Linked DNA regions of Homo sapiens: region 2 is linked to region 1. Evidence: fine-mapped expression QTL. Tissue or cell type: whole blood. Region 1 holds a variant in brackets; the other region holds the start of a gene. All regions are shown on one strand. Distances are between the middles of the regions.

Evidence for each region. PIP is the estimated chance that this variant, and not a neighbour inherited with it, causes the effect.
Region 2: it holds the start of HIF1A, and the variant in region 1 is fine-mapped to the expression of HIF1A in whole blood (TOPMed, PIP above 0.99).

Annotation. Positions count from the first base shown.
Region 1 is chr14:61,473,345-61,481,526 of GRCh38, forward strand. The region is part of intron 9 of PRKCH (protein kinase C eta); the gene reads left to right. Among named protein-coding and RNA genes, the nearest start is that of PRKCH-AS2, 68 kb to the right of the region's middle. RefSeq lists enhancers at 3,384-3,483, 3,594-3,673, 4,307-4,366, 5,444-5,613, 6,211-6,380 and a cis regulatory region at 5,529. The variant T/G (reference allele first, on the strand shown) is at 3,697.
Region 2 is chr14:61,691,166-61,699,347 of GRCh38, forward strand. HIF1A (hypoxia inducible factor 1 subunit alpha) reads left to right here and starts at 4,348. Exons shown (of 15, transcript NM_001530.4): 1 at 4,348-4,674. The coding sequence starts at 4,640. It overlaps HIF1A-AS1 (HIF1A antisense RNA 1), which reads right to left and starts at 4,658. Exons shown (of 2, transcript NR_047116.1): 1 at 4,542-4,658. RefSeq lists silencers at 1-180, 4,107-4,406, 4,707-4,806 and an enhancer at 3,667-4,036.

The DNA.
Region 1 (8,182 bases):
GGAGTAACATAAGATTTGCATGTTAGAAGGCTCTCTCTGGCTGCTATGTACAGAGGGAGGCTAATGGCAGCAGATCTGGTGAGGATGCTGGGCCCGTGATCTGGGAACTTGCCTGCCCCAAGGCAGCAATCATGGGAGTGGAGTCAAGGAAACACTAAAGAAGTAGACATGATAGGACTTTTTAAGTGGGAATGGCCAGGGCTCTGGCCATTTGGAAGCCTAAAGAGAATGGAATAGCATGAGTTCGGTTTGGGGGAAATTCAGTGGTAAGATGCTTGTTTGTCAGAAACACACTTGAGATGGGAGATCAGTTTGGTGTCATCCATGTCCTCTTGGTAAGTGGAAACTATAATATAAAATCTTTCAGGCCAGGTGCAGTGGCTCACACCTGTAATCCCAGCACTTTGGGAGGCCAAGGTGAGTGGATCACCTGAGGTCAGGAGTTCGAGACCAGCCTGGCCAACATGGCAAAACCCTGTCTCTACTAAAAATACAAAAATTAGCCGGGCATGGTGGCACGCACCTGTAATCCCAGCTACTCAGGAGGTTGAGGCAGGGAGAATCGCTTGCACCCGGGAGGCAAAGGTTGCAGTGAACCAAGATCACGCCATTGCACTCCAGCCTGGGCAACAGAGCGAGACTCTGTCTTAAAAAAAAAAAAAATCAAAAATCTTTTAGTAGATGTTTATAGAGAGAGAAGAGAGGAGACTTGAAGAAGGAATTCTAAGTAAGGGTTAAGGTTGAGTGGAAAAAAGAAGAAGAATCAGAAGGAAGTGGTTTCATAGTAGGATAAATCAAGTGCTGAGATGAAGTCAGTTCACTAACAGACTCAGAGTTCTATTGGATACGGCATGAGGTTCTTGGTGTCACCATCTTAGGATCTGCTCATTTTTGGGGTTTTAAGAACCTGTCTGAACTCCACTTAGCCAACTGAAGCTTGCCTTCAAAGTTAACACAATGTGCTTTCTCCCATATAAACCTTTTAAGCTGTTTCTGATGACTGTTCCCCTTCCTGTTAGAGCTCCACCTCTTTTAATTTAGCCTCCATACCTTTAGAGTAAGGTCTGCAACTTTCTTCCTTAATTGACAGTGGAGATCAATATGTAACCCAGATTGCAAAAATGGTTTGGGAACACTGCATGTTCTCACTCATAGGTGGGAGTTGAACACATGGACACAGGGTGGGAAACATCACACACTGGGGCCTGGCAGGGGATGGGGGGCTGGGGGAGGGATAGCATTAGGAGAAATACCTAATGTAAATGACGAGTTGATGGGTACAGCAAACCAACATGGCACATATATACCTATGTAACAAACCTGCACGTTGTGCACATGTACCCTAGAACTTAAAGTATAATTTTAAAAAAATTTTTTAATAGTTTGGGAAGAAATTGTGGGCATGTCATTTGCTTGAACAGATTTTGTTCCCCAGCCAGAGGACCAGAGAAGAGTTTGTCATGGCTACAGTGGAGGAATCAAACTCAGAATAGCATGTGAAAGGCACATTCCACACAGAAACTTCGGCCCGTGCATCAGCACTGCAGACAGGGGGAGAGGAAATGAATTCTCAGCCAGTAGATTCCCAGGCATCACCTTGAGGCAGATATGGCATATTCTTGGCCATAGTCTCTACTTCTCTAACTGGGCAAAGTGTCTAATCAACTATAACCCAAAATATCTTCCCACATGGCATAAGTGTCGAATTCATACATAGATCAGAGGGAGAAATGAAATTGTGGTTGTCTTAAAAGTTTACACAGTTTAGGGATCTCCATCATGAAAAATGATCTAAATAAATGAAATGGTATTTTTACTCTTTATCCTACAAGCCCTATACAAACTAAGTCCATAAATATCCTATTTGATGCTTAAACCAAAAGCTTTATAAAGAGAATTTCACTATGTGAAATAATGACTTGAAGAAATCCTATTGTGGATGCTTTTGTTAAGTTGCTAAACCTTTTTTAAAAAGTAGATAATCATCCAAGATATCTTCTTTGTGACTCTTAAGTTTTAGTGTATTTCAAATGTGGATAGTTTTTGACTAGGAGGTTTGTTCAAACGTTCTTCTCGACCACTAGGGGGTGCTCTAAAGGTTAGTGATGTCTAAATGATTGACCAATCAATTAAAACACCGTGCCCAGTTAGCAATCATCTCCACTGAGAGATGCCTGCTTTACCAGGCTAAAAAAATGATCTTTATCATGGCATAGAGACTATAAAAGCTGTGTCCTTTTATTTTCATTAACCTAATTAGAAGTCAAGCTAATTGTAGGACTTCATAGAACTGGCATCGGGAATAGCATGCAACTGTTAAAAAAATCATGGTCTTGATGACTAATTATATCAGGAAATAATATGCAATATAAATGAAAAGAGAAGTGTATGTTTTTTACTTTTTCCTTTCTGTTTTTAAAACATGCTATAAAATGTTAAGTATAATTAGGACACAAAGGAAAAATTAAATCTAGTTAACATTACCTTGAAAACTTCTTATTTGCCCTGAAATCTCCAGTTCTTTGGAAGCTAAAAGCTTGAGACTTCTATATCTGGTTGTCAGGATTAGGGTGATTTTATTTGAATTTTCTTTATTTTCTTCTCAATTTTCTATCTATTTACTTTGTAATTACATTTGAACTATGGATATGTAATTAGTTTTATAAATAGAAAAATCAAAGCTTTATAAAGGAAAATATAGCATCAGCAGACCTGATTGTCCTACTTAACTCTTCCACAAACTGTTTTAACTATGGGCAAGGTACTTCACTTCTTTGCCCTTTGCTTCTGTAAAATGGTTGGGTGAAACGAATCTTGGCAGTTTGTTCCAGCTCTTCTAAAGTTCCATTTTAAATTTTACCAGGAGACAAAAATGGTTCCTATTATGTTCACTCTTGAAGCATTTATTAACCCTCACAATTGGCCAGGCACTGTGCTTGGTGCTATTAAAGATATCTCACTTAGTATCTGGGCTCTGCCTTCAAGGGTTTCCGGTCCCCCATGGAAAAGAAGACCAAGTGCACAGATCCATCCCAGCCCTACACAATGATACTGGAAAGCTGTATGTGGACCAGAAATGCCAAAGGAGGTTCCATCAGGAAGAGGGGACTTGTGCTCTGACTCTGCTGTACCCCTGATCATATGTTACCACTTATTTATGCTTTAAAGAACATCCTGGCCTGGATGTTTCACAGTGTGTTAAACTGCAAGGTAGATTTCCTCTTTGTTTCCCTGGTCTACTGTATATATGCCAGTAAGCCTTGTCAGGTTTCATTATGAGAGATGGCTATAATGCATCCAGATTACTAGGAAAACACTTGGTCTTTGAAAAGAGCTGTGTGTCCCTCTAGGTTTGAAATGCAAAGTCCTAAGGCTTTGTTATATTCAGGACATATTTCACCTTCCCAAAGACTAGTCTCAGCTCAGACAGGATGTATCTTGCCTGTGGGCTTGACACAGGGGTTGCTGGGTGATTGAATTAACCTCTGACATCTTCTGGGCTGTGCAAAATGATAAGTTCAAAAAAAAAATGCAGCCATTAGACTCCTTCTCATTGTTTCTTCCTTGAAGCCTTTGTAATCTTTCTTAATGTGGTTAAATTCAAGTTATTTCCAGTTCAGACATGGTGCAATCAGATTTCCTCATGCGGGTGCTTTTCCACTGTGACCTCTTTGACGTCAGTAACTGTTTCCTGTT[T/G]ATTTGAACTCCCTGCTCACCCTGTAGATGACTTTGTCTGAGAAAAATAATAAAGCAACGGTACTTAGGAGAAGTTCAACACTGCTATCTGTTACGGAGATTTCCTTCTCCTTTCCCCCAGCCGTCAATAGCACTCTGCAGCTTTTCATACAGCATGAGCTTGTTATTCATGTAGAAATACTCCAAGGCAGTTCTTAGAACTTGGGTAAGTAAGAATAGATGTGGCTCCCAGCTTAACATTGCCTTAAAGCAATAGCTACATTTTTCATAACTTTTACGTGTTATGTCTATCTTTGAATTATTTCCAAAAGGTAATCTGCATCCTCACTATAATTCTGAGTATGGTGGCTATTTCCTACTGCCTTGGTTTCTGGAATGATACATCTTCAAATGCAGTCTTTAAATCATAGAGACAACAGATTTTTTCTTTAAATGGAGACAAATCTTTGCAATCTGGTTCTGAGATTGAATCAACTTTATAGAAAGGAAGAATAACTGCTATAAAAAGTCTCGCTTACAGTAATATGTTTTTAGTACATAAGGAGGGCATTTGTTTTGCAATAATAATTATTATAAAGCCCCTAAAATAGAAAATATGAATTACCAGTCAGTGTTAGAAAACTTATCAGAACTGAAACCTTTGTTAGTATGTTTTGGTTATCAAATCTAGTTTTGTAACCCCTTGCTTAGCAAGCATTTCCCAGAAAGAAAAGTCCTTACCCGGTCAAGGCCATTACCATATAGCATCGGGAAACATCCCTGTGTCCCAACAGCTGGGCTAGGACTCCTTCCACCTCCTTCGACCCTCTATACCCTTGTCCCACACTGAGGGTTGGGGGAGCTGCTGCAGTTGCTGTTTCGGCTGCTGTTTCATTCCTGTCCACTTGTGAGTGTGTGTGTACCTCCGCCAGTCTTGGAGGTCTGTGAAGGAGGCCTCGAGACCCAGTGCATGCAGCTCACTGCCACGTGTGCCACAGCCACAGCCAAGGGGCCTTCCTATGCCTCATGCATCAGGCCCTTTGGAGCCCTGGGAGCAGACGGCCATGGCGGCTGAAGCTGCAGTGGATGCACTCATGATGATGAGGATAATAATAGTTGCTAACATTTCTTGAGCATTTCACTTATGGTATGCCAGACACTATTCAAAGCCCTTAGCTTAAATCATTTAATCCTCACAAACCTGTGAGTTGGGTTGTCTTATTATCCCCATTTTGCAGAAGTGAGTTTTGTGAGAGAGAAGCTAAATACAGCACAGCAGGAGTTGCTCTTGGACCTCAAGCATCCTGGCCCAGAGCCCAGGTGTCGCCACTGCCCTGGGCTTCCTCTTAGTCATACCAGGGACTTGGGCACTGGGCACAAAATCTCCTCTTTATATAATGTAGTGGTACCAATAGCTTCTATTGATTGAGATTCTTTTCTGGGCTTGGCACTGTATGAGGCACTTGGCTTCTGGTTTAATCTTTACATGATCACTGTAGTTATAGATGTTATTATCCCAGATTTATAAATAAATAAGGAAACTTCTTACCCCTTAAAAATGGGTGTGTGTGCCATGCATGGTTGCTCACGCCTGTAATCCCAGCACTTTGGGAGGCCGAGGTAGGATTGCTTGAGCCTAGGAGTTCAAGACCAGCCTGTGCAACACAAAGATACCCAGTCTATACAAAAAATTAGCCAGATGTGGTGGCACAAACCTGTGGTCCCAGCCGCACAGGAGGCTGAGGTTGGAAGGATCACTTAAGCCCAGAAGTTCAGCGCTGCAGTGAGCCATGATCCTGCCACTGCCCTCCAGCCTGGGTGACAGAGCAAGACCCTGTCTCAAAAAGAAAAACAAAAATTGTGTGTATTTTAGCTGAAATTCTCCTGGTAGCAGAAAATTTACTTCAGGTAGTAAGAAAACTTTCTTAAGGCTATGCAAAAAAAAGAACTAAAAATAAAGATTCAGAGGTACAACGGATGTCTCATGCAACCCAAGGGCAGGAGTTGGCCAGCTCTCTCGGCTGATCTGAAACCAGAAAGACATGAGGAACCCTGGCAGTTTTGCTCTTGGCTCACTCACCCTCCCTGATCTCTTGTCTCTGCCTCACTCTATGTTTCTGCTTCATTCTTCTCCTTCACCCACCCACCTGTCCATCCACCCACCCAGTCTTTCTCCACTCTCTTATACCCAGGCATTTCCCACGTTTACACTGCAAAAGCAGTTTCCGTTTCCTAACTCATGTTTCCTCAGTTCCTGCACACAGCCTAGACTAAATTAAAAGCTTTTTACCTCAGTTTCAGTTTTCTGGAAAAGAGACTCTGAGCAGGTGCAGCTTGATCTAACTGGCTGTGCACAGATGCTGAGCGTTTACCCATGCGGCCAGGCTGGAGCATGGGTAAATGCTGAGGAAGGGATCACCATGAGCTGAGCAGATGCCTCCAAAGATGTTTGCCCCAGTGACCTTACAGGATCTTGCCCTGCCTGGTCCATGCTCGCTCTCCAGTCACTTTCCTTAGTTAGTATCATCTTGTCACTGGTACCATCCTGGCATAGCACTTTCATCCACCCGGATGTTATGTCTCTTGTTCATACAAATTGCCCATCAGCTTTAACTCCTATCGAACAGCCCTTAATGAGGGGGCCTTAGGGAATGCACCTTACTTATACTGACAGCCATTATTCGGGGGATATTTTTAGCCCCTTGGGCCTGGGGAAGGAATAGTTCTGAACTGATAGCCAGGGCAGAGAGTGGACCCAGACTGCAGCAGGTCAGTGGCATCAGAGCAAGTGACGACAGGAATTCTATTATCACCAGGCAGCAGCTCCTCTGCCTCCCACACCTGTAACTCACACCAGGTGTGGGACAAAGGGATTTCTGAGTTGCTTTCACTCCCACCGGTGTTCATCACCCCATGTTAATGACTTGTACTTGTGGTTGGCTGAATCAGGGACAAAAGAGAGGAGCAGGGACAAAGGGCTTAGCCACTTGGCTTTAGAAGTGATGTTAAACCGGTCTCCTGGCCTTGAGATTTCCTACCACACAGGTCAGGGCAGACTTCACCTGACAGAAGCCAAAAGCCTCAGGTAAAGCTGTACAGATGTGCAGGCTCAGTTTCTAGGAAAATGGACTTTAGAAAAACCAAAATGGTTCTATGCACAGGTTTAAATACAGAAACAGTCATCTTTGCCATCTCTGTCTAGAGTGGGATTTGGGAAACCCCTCTCTGCCATAGGAGTGACTCACTACAACCATAATCCATCTTCCAGTACTTCCCTAAATGCAGGATTTCCAAAAAATGCTTCACCTAGTTGCTTCACAATTGAATTTGTGAAGCATGATTTGGTGTTTGTTGAGTCATCAGTGATACTAATTCTTAAATAGCACAGACTGAGAGTAGAGCTGTAGGTGAGAGGTTATCTTTTGCCTCCTTTTAGAGCTTCAAATACAGGTCTTTGCTTTGTAAAGGGCATTCACTAAATATGAGAAGTTTTACTCCTTTGGAATTAATTTTGCTGGAGTGATTTGCTTTTGTAGCTGATGTTGTTTTATTCTATGTGGCAAGTTCCAACATTACTGGAGTCTTTTTCAAGCCAAGCACCATAGCTGCACCTGTTTTACCCCAGGCACTGGGCTTATAATTCTAGTAGAGACTGGTAGTGAGTGATCATGTTTATTAATGGCAGCAGAGACCCTGCACTTCTCATTTGTGGGTGACCTGTGAAAGCACCCCTAAGTAGCTTTTTGCTTTTTCTGCATTTCATTTTGAAAACAGCAGTACAGTTACAGCGAAGCCTCACACTCACCCACTCCAGCGCTTGACAACCTGCCTGCCTTCGCAGTCCCTCCCGTCTGCCTGACATCTTACACTTCAACTGCACAGTCTTCCTGACACCTCCCACCTCAGTCCCCACTCCAGCCTGACTTGCATACCCTCATCCTTCTAGGCTGGGGAATTGACTCCTCTCAGAAGCTTCCCCCCAAACCCCACCTGCCAAATTCCACCTCCACCTCCAGGCTGCTCAGATGCCCTGCTCGGTGTCCCCATAACACCTTCTGTACCTCTCCACTGCACTTAACACACTGTGGCGATGTGCTGTGTCTGCATGTCCATGAGCTTACTGAGAGCAGTGTGGAGTCATATTAGTTTTAGGAGACTGGGTCCTTACCCAGGCCCTGGCGTACCACGTGTGTGTTTAGTAAACATTTGTCTTTGTTCAGAACCTTAAAGGAACCAAGAAGATCTCTGCAAGCTGTAGTAGATGTCGTAAAGCCTGCGCACCAGGCTCCAAGTGGAGCTGCTGGGACCTGAACCAGAGCCAGCCGATTTTCACTGTGGATGCCATTCCAACAAGCCTGGTTACCTCAGGCAGCAGAAAGGCCATTATGGGACATGGGTGGTTACTCGTGTCCCTTAATAATGGGCAACAAGGATGCAACAATTTCTTTTTGTAGCTGCTTTCTGACTCCCATTGCCTAAACAAGGGCTCTCTCAAACAGCCTCACAA
Region 2 (8,182 bases), 220 kb after region 1:
TCAAGTCTTTTAGTGAGCTTGAGTTGAGTATTTCCCTTCTCCCCTGTGGAAGGCTAGAGCTGACCAGAGTTGGTAATTTCCCTTCCTCCAGATTGGTTAGCCTTTGGTAGATTCATCTGGTTAGGCTCTGATAGAGAGTTTCCCTTGAGGCCAGGTCTTGTTAAGAAGAACAGAGAGCCCTGAGAGTATTTCACGATGGTTACTTACCCCTTCTCCCTGGCAAAAGCAAAGCAGATTTTTCTCAGATCTTTACAGTGAGAATCTGACAGGATTCACAGAGGTAAAACTGAGGTAAGTATTGAGGCCCCTCTCAGACTGAGCCTCCTTGGAGTTTTTTAACTCTCAAGCTAGTCTGCACTGAGCCTCCAGCAATTCCCCAATTACAGTTTAGTGTTCCTACTGATGTTGGCTCCAGCTGTGAAACTAGCTTCAGCTTCTGGCTTCTGTGCCTGGGCTCTGCTCCTGGTAAACTGTGATTCTCTGAAAAGCTGTGATTCTCTGTATCTATCTGTCTGTCTCTCTAGTTTTTAGGGCAGTGGTTTTTCCTGTGACCTCAATTCTCTGGTGGATCTAAGAAGAGTTACTGATTTCAGTTTGCTTAGCTTTTTTTTTTCTTGTTGTGAGGATGGGAGTGACAACTTCCAAGCTCTTTACATGTTGAACAGGAAACTGAAAGCCCCTTGGTGTTCCTTTGTAAATTCATCTTAAAAATATTTATCATAATTGAAAAGTGCTAATATCAAATTTTCAGTCTGTTTATATTCCCCCTAAACTCAGATAAATATACATTTTATTTTGTGTGTCTGTGTGTGTGGGTTTTGTTGTTGTTTGTTTTTTGTGTTTTTTTTTAAGATATAGGGTCTTGCTCTGTCAAGGCTGGAGTGCAGTGGCACAATCGTACATCTCTGCAGCCTCGAACTCCTGGGAGAAAGTGATCCTCCCGCTTTAGCCTTCAGAGTAGCTACGACTACAGGCACTAACCACCAAGCCCAGCTAATTTTTAAAATTTTTTGTAGAGATGGGAGTTTCACTTTGTTGCCCAGGCTGGTCTCAAACTCTTGGCCTCAAGTGATCCTCCTGCCTCAGCCTCCCAAAATGTTGGAATCACAGATACTTTGTGTCTTGATTCTTGAAAGGAAAAAACAAAGATTTTTAATGCCTCTTATCTTGTACGCACTTTCCTTCCAAACAATACCCTTTTGCTGCCATTGTTCTCGTTATGAATAGCTTAAAGAAAAAGAAACAACTAAGGGTAGTAATAGGCCAGGAATCACTTACTGAATACTAGGTCTTCTTGTATAGTTTGATACCCTATAAATTGTGTGCATCTGATGCATTTCACCTTCAAAAGGCTCAATGCTCTGTATTATTTAGTAGTAATCAAAATTTCAAGTTTTACTTAACCTCCTGATTCACTGCCCAATTTCCTAATAAATACGGGCTAAGGGTCAATGGGGTCATTTGCAAGTAATCTTGTAGTCTACTCAGAAAGTTCTGCAAAGTTAGAAAGTGATTAAATGACTGTTTGTTAAGATATACTTACATAGTAATAACCTAAATGCATTTGTTAAGTGGTTGTAGAGAGAGGGATTTAAAATTTTATCCTATATGAAATTTTCCTTTTTGGTGTCTGTTATTTAATAGGATTGTTTGAATTAGGGGATACTATTTGGTGCCTTTGTAACTATATGAAAATTAGTTGGTTGAATATTACTGCTTTCCATGTTCATATTTATATTTGTATAGACATATATATATATACACATATACTACTTTCCTTTCCATTTTCATATTTATATTTGTGTATACACATATACATAAACATATATTTTATACATTTTTGAAAAGGAAAATTAACTTAAGGGCATATTTAATGAATATTCAAAAATTTTTTTGCTGATCAAATTATCATTCTGCTTTAAACTTTTGAAATGATCCAAAAAAATTTTAAATGACTTAGATTTACTGTTACAAAATGCTTGTCTTTTGATGTCACAAACATTATATACTATAATCACTGGCCAGAGATAATTGCTATAAGTATAATGAAAAGGGAAATGATGGAAGATCTCTGCAGCTATCCTCATAAATGAGGGTGGGAACACGATGGGCAGTTCCAAAGTTGAAAATAGAGAATATATGTGGATTTATATTAACATAATTGGTATTCTTGGATAGTTAAAAATGGCTAAACTGTAGGAGAAGCCCGAGTAATTACTGTTAACAGAGGAATAAATTTGAGGGCAATAATAATGATGATAGGCCAGGCACTGTGGCTCATGCCTGTAATCCCAGCACTTTGGGAACCCGAGGCGAGCGGACCACCTGAGGTCAGGAGTTCGAGAGCAGCCTGGCCAACATGGTGAAACCTCGTCTCTACTAAAAATAGAAAAATTATCCGAGTGTGGTGGTGCGTGCCTGTAATCCCAGCTACTTGGGAGGCTGAGGCAGGAGAATCACTTGTACCTGGGAGGCGGAGTTGCAGTGAGCCGAAATCGCGCCACTGCGCTCCAGCCTGTGGGCCAGAGCGAGACTCCGCCTCAGAATAATAATAATGATAATAATAATAACGCCACCAACAATACTAAGAGCTAACATTTACTGAGTGCTTACTATGCACCAGATATTGTTCTAAGTATACATTTATTATCTCATTTAACCATCCATAATACTGTGGTATAGACACTTTTATATCCATTTTATAAATAAGTAAACTGAGTTATGGAGAGATTAAACGACTTGCCAGTAAGATTCAAAGCCTGTGTACAAGCTCACGCTTGATTCTGGAGCCAGTGTTCTTAACACAGTATCTTGAGAATGTTAAACTAAAAAGTTTTTAATTTACAGTATTCTTTCCACAATTAAAAAAGAAATTATGAGTAATTATTTTTAGTTCTTTCTTCTCTTCAGGCATTTCCCATGGTTCTTTTCAAGACATAATACATATCATTTAGTGTTGTAGATCTGAAAAAACAAAAGTAGCGTGAAGATCAAAAATTTTCTAAAGAGACGGAGTCTCGCTACGTTCCCTAGGCTGGAACACCCAGGCTTCTCCAGCCTCACACCTCTGAGTAGCTGGAACCACCCTGTCCGCTAAGGTCAATGTTTAATCGTATCTTTGTAGGTCTACTGACCAGTTAAAAAGAGGTGCTGTATACATTGGTTGTTGTCTTGTCAGAGTTTGATGCTTCTATATAGACCATTGTTTTTACATGCTAATACAATTGAAAGCCACTACAGATATTTATATTTACAACCCAAAGCTAGGTTTTAACAAGAAACTCATAAGGCAAAGGTGAGAAGTAAAATAATTTAGCGCCAAGTGGAGATATATGTGCAATGCTACTTTGTTGGGCTCAAAACATATTTTTCTTTTAGAAGACTGACAGGCTTGAAGTTTATGCCTCCAAAGACAAAAGTGATTATGTTTTGTTTAGTAGCTTGCAAAGTTGCCAAAGGCCATTTTTTCTACTCTTTCCCTGAAATTGGTTTATATGCTTATTAAAGTCATTTATACCTATTTGCAAATGCTTAACATAGTTTCAGATTTTAAGATTTCCCTGCAACTTTATTTCCCTTGAAGTTTACAGCAACAGGAGTTCATTTTTATTTTTAATTGCATTTATTCAGTAAGTAAACTCCGCCACAGAAAAACTTAGTAGACAAGGTGAGTTCCCCTGTGCTCCGTGGCAAAGAGTGCGGTGGGTGACATTGACCCATGGTTAGGTAATCTGGTAAGGAAAGACCCCGTTGTAACACATCTGAGCAACGAGACCAAAGGAAGGGCTTGCTGCCACGAGGCGAAGTCTGCTTTTTTGAACAGAGAGCCCAGCAGAGTTGGGCGGCAATCGTGCCCAGCACTGAGGCCGAGGAGAAAGAGAGCAGGAGCATTACATTACTGCACCAAGAGTAGGAAAATATGATGCATGTTTGGGACCAGGCAACCGAAATCCCTTCTCAGCAGCGCCTCCCAAAGCCGGGCACCGCCTTCCTTCGGAGAAGGCGCAGAGTCCCCAGACTCGGGCTGAGCCGCACCCCCATCTCCTTTCTCTTTCCTCCGCCGCTAAACACAGACGAGCACGTGAGCGTCGCAGCCCGTCCCAGCTGTGCCTCAGCTGACCGCCTCCTGATTGGCTGAGAGCGGCGTGGGCTGGGGTGGGGACTTGCCGCCTGCGTCGCTCGCCATTGGATCTCGAGGAACCCGCCTCCACCTCAGGTGAGGCGGGCTTGCGGGAGCGCGCGCCGGCCTGGGCAGGCGAGCGGGCGCGCTCCCGCCCCCTCTCCCCTCCCCGCGCGCCCGAGCGCGCCTCCGCCCTTGCCCGCCCCCTGACGCTGCCTCAGCTCCTCAGTGCACAGTGCTGCCTCGTCTGAGGGGACAGGAGGATCACCCTCTTCGTCGCTTCGGCCAGTGTGTCGGGCTGGGCCCTGACAAGCCACCTGAGGAGAGGCTCGGAGCCGGGCCCGGACCCCGGCGATTGCCGCCCGCTTCTCTCTAGTCTCACGAGGGGTTTCCCGCCTCGCACCCCCACCTCTGGACTTGCCTTTCCTTCTCTTCTCCGCGTGTGGAGGGAGCCAGCGCTTAGGCCGGAGCGAGCCTGGGGGCCGCCCGCCGTGAAGACATCGCGGGGACCGATTCACCATGGAGGGCGCCGGCGGCGCGAACGACAAGAAAAAGTAAGCCCATTCCCTCGGCCCGCCGCCTTCTCCCCCGGCGACCCCGCCCGCCTGCCCGCCCTGGGCTCCTGGGCCGGCCTCGGCGTTAATGGGATTGGGGGGGGCAGCCTTTTTGTTTCTGCTGCTGCTCCCCTCCCCTCTCTTCCCCCAACCTCGCCGGCCGGGCTCCCCCGCTGTCCACGTCGCCATCTTGTCGTGGGGGGTGGGAGACGCCTCGAAAGTGCTTTCAGGGGCCGGGGTCTGAGCCCTGCTTGCCCTCCCCGCCGGCCGTGGGGGCCTCGCGCCGCCCACCTACCCGCCTCAAAAACCCAGCCTGCTCTGTGGCCCCATCCGGAGGGGACTTTACCCAGCCTGAAAACCCCGGGAAGAGAAATGAGCTGCAGCTCGGTAGCCGCGGTTTGCACCCGGAGCTTCCGCTCCTTCCCGCCCCCATCCTCTCCAGTTCCATTGAAAACTCGGCCCTGGGGCGGACCCTGCACGCTGGTCCTGGCTTTCCAGTGGACTTGGGGCCTTGAGTTCCCGACTGAGGGACTCGCGTGGTCGGATGCGATCTTGTCCTGTAGTTGTCCAGCCGTCGCGGGTGTCTTTGCCTTTGTGCATTAGGGATTTGCCGCGATGGCCTTAAGATGCGAACTTTTTAGTTTGCACGTGCAGGTTTTGTTTCGTTTTAATCGCCTTGAAAAACTTGCCTAGACTGAGAGTCAGAGTAATGGGAATTTAGGGAAATGGCAACATTTTAAAGAGAACTTCAGAATTGGATACTTGAGTTCATATCACCTGTCACGAGAACGCAGATATTATAAATGAATATATGCCTCATTCATTCTTCAAATAATGAAAATGTAGGGGCTGGTTAAATTTAGGCAGTTTTAATGATACTGAAAAAAGTATATGATGAGTGAATGAAATGCGGCACTAAAATGTTGCAAAAATTTTCGAACTCTGTCTCATTTTCCTGAAATTGAAGTATATTAAAGGAAAACCGTCAACATATATCTAAAGTAAGTAATCACTCGGTTAGAACTTAATGCAAGTTTTATAAATCACCTTGAAGTTTGAGTCTAAGGGGTACATTAGAGATTAAGAATTGTGAGTTGGACCAGTGGTGTTAAGAGCGGACTCCCCCATCCCCCAACACACACACAATTTTGCCCACTTTGGCATTTTAACTTTTAAGGAAATCACTTAAGGAATTGAAGATTTAGAGTAAGAGTTTTGGTTAGTAGACTGGCTTTGCTGTTAAATCCTTCCACTCTTCTGGCAGAGAGATTAATTTCCCTAATCAGTATCAGCAGAAGATAAACTTGTTTATATTCCTGCTGTTTTGTAGATCCCTTCTCCTGGTCCTTCTTCAATAGAATATTAAATTCTTAGTTTGTATACAGCAGAGAAGGTCACTTATAAAATTCAAAAAGTGAGCAAACAGGTCTAGATTAATTCCAAGAGTTACCAGGAATTAATTGCAGTTTATTTTGCGGAGGTGATTACAGTGCTTTTGATGAAATGATAAAGCTGCTATATTGTAAACCTAAGGCAGATTACCTCTGTGTAGTGCCAGTTTTCTATCCTTATTATATATTGAATCATACTTAATACAATGCATTAAATTATGTACCACTTTTTTTATATACAGTATCGAACTCATTGTTTTGCCATTCATCCGTTCAGAATATCAGAAGCAGTTTTGAAACGAATTAATAAATTAGCTACTGTTCATCAGCCCCAATTCTAAATAAGCTCTTAGATTTTCCTCAGCCCATCTGTTACTTTCAAAATTTTCTCATTTGAAAACTTGGCAACCTTGGATTGGATGGATTCATATTTCTTAGTATAGAAGTTCTTGATATAACTGAAAAATTAAGTTAAACACTTAATAAGTGGTGGTTACTCAGCACTTTTAGATGCTGTTTATAATAGATGACCTTTTCTAACTAATTTACAGTTTTTTGAAAGATAACTGAGAGGTTGAGGGACGGAGATTTTCTTCAAGCAATTTTTTTTTTCATTTTAAATGAGCTCCCAATGTCGGAGTTTGGAAAACAAATTTGTCTTTTTAAAAGAAGGTCTAGGAAACTCAAAACCTGAAGAATTGGAAGAAATCAGAATAGAAAATGGGTATGGTTATGATACTGTAGATTTAACGCAGGACATTTCATGTTGTTCCTAGTTATAGGGGCTGAACTTATTTAATAGCACGTGCATTTTGATTTTTAGATTTTTAAGGGAATGTCAAGAGAGTAATGATTCTGTTTCAGGCTTCAGGCCAGACTCCTTCAGAGTTTTCCAAAACAAATAATTACTGAATCATTAAAGTAAAATTTCTGAGAATAGATATTCCTTAATTTCCTTCATTAACTTTGGCCATTAAAAGTCAAGAAGCTCTCTCATTTATTAGCAAACTTTTCTCCTTATGATTCTATTTTGATTGTCCTTTTGTTTGAGGAAGCAGCATATGGTGGTTAAGAGCATAGGATCTAGAGGCAGATACCTCTGAGTTAAGGGTCCCAGCCCTTCACTTGTGAGCTTGAGCAAGTTACTGAATGCCTCTGAGCCTCTTTCCTCCTTTTGAAATGATGATAAGAATAGCAGCCATCTGAGCAGTTATTGTAAAGGTTAAATGAGATAATGCTTGTGAAGCACTTAGCCCATTGCAGGAGTCTTGATGACACTGTGTACTTGAAAATAGATGTTACCTGTTAAAATTCTTGTTTAAACTTCCACAACTCTTAAAACTCTTTTTTGCTAGTCCTTCCAGCTGTTTCCTTTAGTTTCTTTTCTGTGTCTTCATGCATCTTTTCTATCTCCTGAAAGTGAAAAGACTAACATTGGATCCAGAGCTTGAAAAGCGTTTTTTTCCTGTTACAATGGGCAAAAGAGTACATCCTTGGGTTATATTGGCACCTAGTATCAGTTATTTTTCTTGAGCATCTGATCTGCTCTCTACTCTAGTGGAGGCCTCCTGCTTCACAATTGCTCACCCCTGTGTTTTCTCCCCAAATAGAATACTGAGTTTACTCTGGACTCTAGAGTCAAACATACACAGTATTCTAGTCTTACTGTTCATTTAAGCAAGATATGTGCAAGACACTGCATTCTTAGTACTGGCAGTAAGTTAAAACATTTTTCGTCTTGATGCCAAAGTTTAGACAATTTTATAAAAATTAACCTTTGTAAAAGATAATGAGTTGATAAAATATTCTCAGTAAAGCAGCTACGTGGTAGAAAAACTGTCCTTTGCTTATGAGTTTCTCCAGAGTTAAGACCATTGGGTTCCATCTGAAGGCAAGACTTCAAGCTTGTCTTACTGGTCTGTTTTGTGGCTCAATTTGTATGAAGTCTATGCACTCTTCCACACGTGTGTATTTACTGAACTATCGAGTTATTTTAGACTGAGAAAGTATTGGAGTTCATTCCTACGGTCCACTGCAGAGCACCTTGTGCAGTTTGGAGAATGTCAACTTTTCTACCTGTTAACTTCCATTGTCTTTACTTTTAACGCCATTGTCTG